Linked DNA regions of Homo sapiens. The protein of the gene in region 1 purifies or fractionates together with the protein of each later gene. This does not show direct contact. Each region holds a gene or a part of one and is shown on either strand. Other genes may lie near its edges.

Evidence for each region. The genes of interacting proteins can lie anywhere in the genome.
Region 2: the proteins of CALY (region 1) and NRG1 purify together in Homo sapiens (affinity purification with western blotting, with the first as the bait; one study listed by BioGRID). This does not show direct contact.

What each region holds. Positions count from the first base shown.
Region 1 is NC_000010.11:133,334,033-133,338,423, forward strand, and holds the start of CALY (neuron-specific vesicular protein calcyon), read right to left. Parts: upstream 2,865-4,391; 5' UTR 2,802-2,864; intron 1-2,801. UniProt on the Homo sapiens protein: Interacts with clathrin light chain A and stimulates clathrin self-assembly and clathrin-mediated endocytosis.
Region 2 is NC_000008.11:32,771,319-32,774,546, forward strand, and holds the end of NRG1 (pro-neuregulin-1, membrane-bound isoform isoform HRG-alpha proprotein), read left to right. Parts: 3' UTR 1-2,728; downstream 2,729-3,228. UniProt on the Homo sapiens protein: Direct ligand for ERBB3 and ERBB4 tyrosine kinase receptors. Concomitantly recruits ERBB1 and ERBB2 coreceptors, resulting in ligand-stimulated tyrosine phosphorylation and activation of the ERBB receptors.

The DNA of each region.
Region 1 (4,391 bases):
ATCTGAGCGGGGAAGGCTCTGAGGGGGGAAGGCTCTGAGGGGGGAAGGACATGAGGGGGAAGGATCTGAGGGGCGAAGGATCTGAGGGGGGAAGGCTCTGAGGGGGGAAGGCTCTGAAGGGGAAGCTCTGAGGGGGGAAGGACATGAGGGGGAAGGATCTGAAAGGCGAAGGATCTGAGGGGGGAAGGATCTGAGCGGGGAAGGCTCTGAGGGGGGAAGGCTCTGAGGGGGGAAGGACATGAGGGGGAAGGATCTGAAAGGCGAAGGATCTGAGGGGGGAAGGATCTGAGCGGGGAAGGCTCTGAGGGGGGAAGGCTCTGAGGGGGGAAGGCTCTGAGGGGGGAAGGACATGAGGGGGAAGGATCTGAAAGGCGAAGGATCTGAGGGGGGAAGGATCTGAGCGGGGAAGGCTCTGAGGGGGGAAGACTCTGAAGGGGAGGCTCTGAAGGGGAAGGACATGAGGGGAAGGATCTGAGGGGCGAAGGATCTGAGCGGGGAAGGCTCTGAGGGGGGAAGGCTCTGAGGGGGAGGCTCTGAGGGGGAAGGACATGAGGGAGAAGGATCTGAGGGGCGAAGGATCTGAAGGGGGAAGGATCAGGGGAGGAAGGATTTGGAGGTGGCAGCTTCTGCGTGGGGAAAGAACTGAGGGGGAAGGATCTGCGTGGGCGAGAGTGCGGCCGGTGAACGAGGGCTGGGTAGGGGATGGGGGAGGCCACTCTGAGCCGGAAGGAGCTAGGCGAGGGGAGACAGGGCCCCCAGTCCTGGACCTGGCCACGCGCTTTGGGGCCCTAACCCGTGCCCCTCGTTGTTGTGTGTTCATCGCAGGCGACCCTGTGCCTGCCGGGCCTTTCTGGAAGAGGCCGTGCGGTGTCCCCCAGACCACCCACCCCGGGCTGAAGACTCTTCCTGAGGTGGGTTCCCACGTGGCCCGGGCAGGGGCAATGGGCACTCGGCGGGCGAGGTTTCACGGTGCAGCCAGCGTCCGTGTGTGTGCAGGCGGAGACGGACGAGGCGCCACGGGGCTCAGATACAGGAGCGATCGGTGGAAGCAGAGTCGGAGCAGCGGAGGGCCGAGAGGCCGGGGAATGACGTGGTTGTGGGGCGAGGGCAGCCAGCGCCGGGGCTTGAGGTGGAGCTTGGCCCGCGGGGGTGGGGGTGCCGCTGAGGAGGAGGGGTCGGGGGTCTCCCCGGAGCGGACGCCCAGAGCAAGCCCAGCCTCTCTACAGACGGGCGAGGGGGAGGCGGAGAAGGGGGCGCAGTCCCGCACCAGGGCCCGCAGCGCCATAGGGTAGGGCCACGCCCCGGAGGGCCCGCGCCAGGAGTCTCCGCCCGAACCCCCGCTCGGGCAGGACCCCCGCCAGGAGGAGCTGCGCTTGAGGGGTCCCCTTCGAGCCAAACTTCAAATCCAACTCCTCGGACGGCCAATTTACGTCATCGCGGGTTTCCATGGCAACGCAGACAGGCCCGAGACGCGTCTTCAGGAAGAAAAAGCCATTGGGGGCCCACTGGAGCCTCGCTTCTGGTTCCGGGCCCAGCGCCCCGGGCGGAATGCGGGGTTGGAAAGGGGGGACTAGCCTGTGTGTGGGGTCCAACCCCCCCACCCCACACACCAGACCTTCCCTTTGCATTGCTGCGTCATGGGGGCCTCCTCCCACGGATGACACGCGGCTCGTGGAACTGGGGGGCCGCCTCTGCTTCTCCTCCCGGCCCCTCCCTGCACCTGCGCTGTCGCGGCATCTTCTGCGGGTCCCCTGCGCCCCACCCGCCGCGCTCTGGCAGGGAGGCAGTGCCCGGCTCCTGTCTCTGGGGCGGGGAAGGCGTGGGATGCTGATGGCAGATGGGTGGGGGCGCGGGTGAGTGAGGCCGTGCAGATGGACAGATGGATGGCGGGGGCGGGGGTGCAGGCTCTCAGTCGAAAGTCCACGGAAGCTCGGCTGGAGGTCACGTCACAGACTCGCTTCCGCATGCGCCCCCCCCAACCATGGAATGCTGCGTCACGCTGGGGGGTGCGCGCAGGTGGGCTTGTGCGGGCCGGGCACCAGCGCGTGTGACTGCGGATCTGAGGGTCCCGCCCAGCCCCCGCGGGCGCCACCGCAGCCTCCCGCCCCTGGCGCTGCAGGGGGCTGTGGCTGCCCCGCTTATTAAAAGGCAGCTGCACTGCGGGGTCGGCGCAGCCCCTCGGAGGGGAGTGGGCGCGCAGCTGCTCCCGCTTCCAGCCCAGCCACCTGTGGCCCCGCACCCGAGCCTGCTGCAGGTGGTTCCGGAGCCGCGCCCCTCCCGGCCTCCTGGCCACCTCTTGCCTGTCACGCAGACGCCCCCATCAAGCCCACCGCCCACCCCCAACCCCCGTGCGGGCAGCGGCTCCTCGGTGCTCTGGTCCGACGCCCCTTCTGTCGCCCTCCCCACCCCGCCTCCGGCGGACAGAGCTGGGCGGGAGCTGGGACTGGTACCCCCTCCCCACCTCGGAGACACCCTTAACTCCAGGCTGCGATCCTCGTGCCGGGGCCCCGCCGTCACGGGAAGCCTGGAGACCACCGCCCTCGGGTCCGCGGGGTCGGACTGGCCTGGGGCAGCCAGAGGAGGCCCGAGGGAGGAGGGCGGCCGTGCAGCGCGCCCTGCACACTCGCACCCGCACACGCGCCTCGCACACACGCACTCACACCCTCATCCGCACGCGCGCCACGCACAAGCGCACTCGCGAGCACACGCACCTCGCACACACACCCGCACACGCGCCTCGCACCCCCGCACCCCTTCGGGCCCCCCGCCCACATTCTGCAAGAAATGTGGAAATAGCTCACAGGCGGCTCCACTGGCAGCTGCTGCAGGACGCGGTCGGGGAGGACGACGATGCGGATGTGGATGCGGAGGATGCGGTTCCAGACGCTTCGCGGCCGGGCGGGGCGGGGGCTGCAGCTGCGAGACCGAGGCTGTGGTCGCCATGGAAACGCGGCTAGAGGCGGGGCCTCGACTCTGGTCCCGCACCCTCTACCCCCACCCACCGCCCCGGCTAGGGAGCCGCGCATGCGCCCCTCAGACCCTGCTCGGGCCTCACCACACACCTCATACACACACCTGATGCACACACACCTGACACATCCCCAGAAACCACACCTCGAACACCAGACACATCCAAACACACACCTCACACACATCCCAGACACACACCTCACACAAACACCCCCCACACACACACCTCACAAACACCCCAAACACCTGACACACACACACCCCAGAATCACACATCTCGAACACCAGACACATCCAAACACACCCCAGACACACACACCCCAGACACACACCCAACACACACCCGACACACACACCACACACACCTCACACACACCCCAGACACACACACACCTGACACACCCGACACACCCCCAGAATCACACACCTCAAACACCACATTCAAACACACACCTCACACACACCCGACACACACCTGACACACACGTGACACACACACCTGACACACCCCCAGAAACATACACCTGACACACACCTCACACACACCCAACAACACATATACCTGATACACACCCCAGGCACACATTTGACACACACACCCCACACACCTGACACACATACCCCAGAAACACCTCAAACAACAGATACATCCAAACACACACCTCACACACACCTGACACACACACCCTAGTAATACACACATCAAATACCAGACATCCAAACACACATCTCACACACACCTCAGACACACACACAGCTGACACACACCTGACAGCCCCCAGAAACACACATTTCAAACACCAGACACATCCAGACACACACCTCACACACACCCCAGACACACACACACCTGAGACACACCCCACACACCTAACCCGCACCCCACACACCTGACCCACACCCCAGAAACACACATCTGACACACACCCCAGACACACACACCTGACACTCTCCCCAGAAACACCTCAAACACCAAATACATCTAAACACACAATTCACACACACCCCAGATATACCTCACACACACACCCCAGACATACCTCACACACACACACCTGACACCCCAGAAACACACCTCACACACCAGACACACCCACACATCTCACATACACGACACGCACCTGACACCCACCCCAGAAACACACATCTCACACACCAGACACCCAAACACACCTCACACACACCCCTGACACACACCCCACACCTGACACACACACCTGACCCACACCCCAGAAACACACACCTTAAACAGCAGAAACACCCAAACACACCCCCCCACACACCTGACACACCTGATGCCCATCTGACACATACCCCAGAAACACACCAGACACACCCAAACACACTCACCTCAAACACATCCCTGACACACACACACCACACACCTGACATACACACACCTGACCCACACCCCAGACACA
Region 2 (3,228 bases), on another chromosome or scaffold:
TCTCGCTATGTTGCCCAGGCTGGTCTTCAATTCCTGGCCTTAAGTGATCCTCCTGCCTCGGCCTCCCAAAGTGCTGGAATTACAGGCATGAGCCACCACCCATAACTTTATGTTTGTTTTTTTGATGCAGTATAAGTTCAGCTTGCTTCTTATGCAGCCATACCATTTCATGTTAACTCTGATTTTTAGCAGCTTATTACATTAGTGTTTTATTATTAATATAATTTTACAGAAATTTACTAAACCATGACTCTGTAGAGTTTTAATAATACTACCTCCAAACATCATTGCAAACATCTAGAAGAATGAACAAAAATGATCTTAGATCGACAGTATATCTGTTTGTCTTAGTTTCTACACAGGATGTTCAGACATATTCCATTTCTTTAAAAAAAAAATATATATATATATATATATATATAGGCCTGGCACGGTGGCTCATGACTGTAATCCCAGCACTTTGGGAGGCTTAGGCAGGCAAATCACCTGAGGTCAGGAGTTTGAGACTGGCCTGACCAACATGGTGAAACCTCGTCTCTATTAAAATTACAAAAATTAGCCGGGCGTGGTGGCACATGCCTGTAATCCCAGCTACTCGGGAGGCTGAGGCAGGAGAATCACTTGAACCTGGGAGGCAGAGGTTGCAGTGAGTTGAGATCACGCCATTGCACTCCAGCCTTGGTGACAAGAGTGAAACTCCGTCTCAAAAAAAAAAAAAATATGTATATATATATATATATATATATATATATATATATATATATATATATAAAATCCCACCAAAAGTCTGCAGAGTGACCAAATTAGACGGCTCTGGTTTCAGATTAAATTCTAAATGTGAGAAACCACATAGCTCCCATGATCCATCCAATAATTCCTCACGTCCTCTTCACTCTTTACTCCATGCATAAAACAGAATTTTTTTTTCTCATCCTGGGTATGAAGCAATTAATAATTTACGGATTTAGCCTATTTGGATTCAATCCCTTCAAACTCCATACTACATCCAAGGTGGAAGTGACTTAAACTCTGATATCAATCATCAGGCTTGTAATATAGGCTTTGTTAATGGCAGGAGAGTCTAATAAAACTTTCTGTTCCTTATCCTTCATTTAAATGAAAAACTTTTTATTGAAAACAATCATAACTCTAGCTCATCATAAATATAATTCATGAGGACATTTTATTATTTTTATATTAAAGAAATAATATTATAGATGTAAACTTTGCACCTTTCTAATTATTATCATGAGTTAAGCTAATACTTGTCTTCTGGTCCCTAGATGATGATTCTTTTTTGCCTTACTGGAGGAGCCCTTGTCTTGAAGTGAGTTGCTTCAACAGCAGAGGACTTCTAGTTTCTCCCAGTTGAGCCTAAAGTGAACTTTTCATCTTCTTCAGAGGAAGGGGCTTCCTTGATTTGTACTTTTGTGGCTCCTCAGATAACACAGACAATTTTATCTTGGATCCCAGGTTCTCTTCACCATTAAGAATAAGAAAGAGAGAAAATGCTGTGCATGACAGCCACCTACTCCAAACTACCCAACCCCCTGTAACCAGGTACCTTCCAACAACGAGATGATTCTGCCCTCACTCAAGAGTCTCCCCCACAAAGATTCCATTCTCCCTTTACTTTTTATTTTTTATTTTTTTGCAAAACAAAGGCCTCCTTTAGTACCTCCTTAGTTTATAACCCTTATCTTCCCAGCTCTTCCCTTCACTGATACCTCTGATTTCAAAAGTTCTGAAGTCGGAAGACCACACAATTTCAGACTGTGAACAGAAATTCAGTCAGAAATTATTGGAGTTAGAAAGAATTTAGAGAAATTGTATTGAACTAGAAAGTCCTCTTTGATTAGTGGTGGCCCTTTAGAAAGTTCTAGGGCAGAGTCCCATGGTGTTTCATCTTTTCCATGATTTGCTTGACCAAAAACTTTTCTTTCACAACATGAAAATATGCTAATCCACCACACATTTTGGATTCTGCTCTGTTTGCCTGAGGTGTTAGATCTCTAGCCAGGACTGTGAAGGGAAGGAACTTGAATCCTTCCTATTGAGCTATTAATGCAGAGTCAGTGAGATGAAGGGTTCCACTCGGGGTCAAAATCATGTCAGTTACCAAGCAAAGGAGCAAGTAAGGGGAAACATCTCCTCATCTGGTTAGTGGAGCCACATTTCACCCACTGATCAAGCCAGACCTGAGCAATAGTCTAGATTTCTCCCTCCACATCTAATTGGTGACAATGGTGATTGTACCACTGACAGGTCACACAAGTCCACACCCTCCTTCACAGCCTCACTGCTTCGGCTCTTGTTTATGCTCTTATCAGCATCTGTCACTAGGATCCATTTGTCTCCTGACTCATCTACTTCCTTTCACTCCCCTGGGCCATCCTTCACATCATGCTAGAAGACTGTGTCTAACTTGCAGAACTTATTGTGTCAATCTCCTGGTTACGGCCCCTCCATGGCTCCCCACCTGACATAGGAGGCCCTTCACAATCTGGCTTCTGTCACTCATAACTTGTCTCCAGCCTTCATTCTTCAGTCTGATTTTATGGTTTTCTAGTTCCCCAATACACCACACCAGTGTTTATGAAACCCTAGTCATTGGCCTACGAACTTTATGATTATTGACATATTCATGTACCACCTGTATTATTTTTTGCATAGTGTTTATTTTTAATTGACTACATTTTTAACTACAATAAAGTAATTTCAACTAAAACTTGGTATCAATGCTGCGAATGGAAAACTGCTATCAGTTGCCATAATAAAAATGAAACTGTAAAAATAAATATAATAAAAATGAAACAAAGTTATTAAGTTCTAACCAGATACTGTTGCCTGCTCAAAGGTCTGAGCAATAAGCCTGTTCTCTGTTTGACACAAAGGGAGTTCAGAAAGTGTTAGAGAGATAGAAAATATTTTGGGGAAGCACAGAAAGATTTATTCCCTGAGTTAGCCAGGATTGAGAGGGAGTTGATAGAGCAGTTACTTCTATGGTTTTGTTCAATGTTATTTAATGCTTGATCCTAGAATCATCCTGCATACAACATTCAGTCATCCACATATCTCAGGAAGCACAATATTGTGCTTGCTACATATCCCTGCCCTTGTTCTGTTTTACTGGAACTCCCTTCTCCATTCGTCCTCCTGACAAACTTCTTTCGCCCTCTCTCTGGATAAAGAGAGTTTCCTTCTCTGGGATTCCTTCCATGACCTATT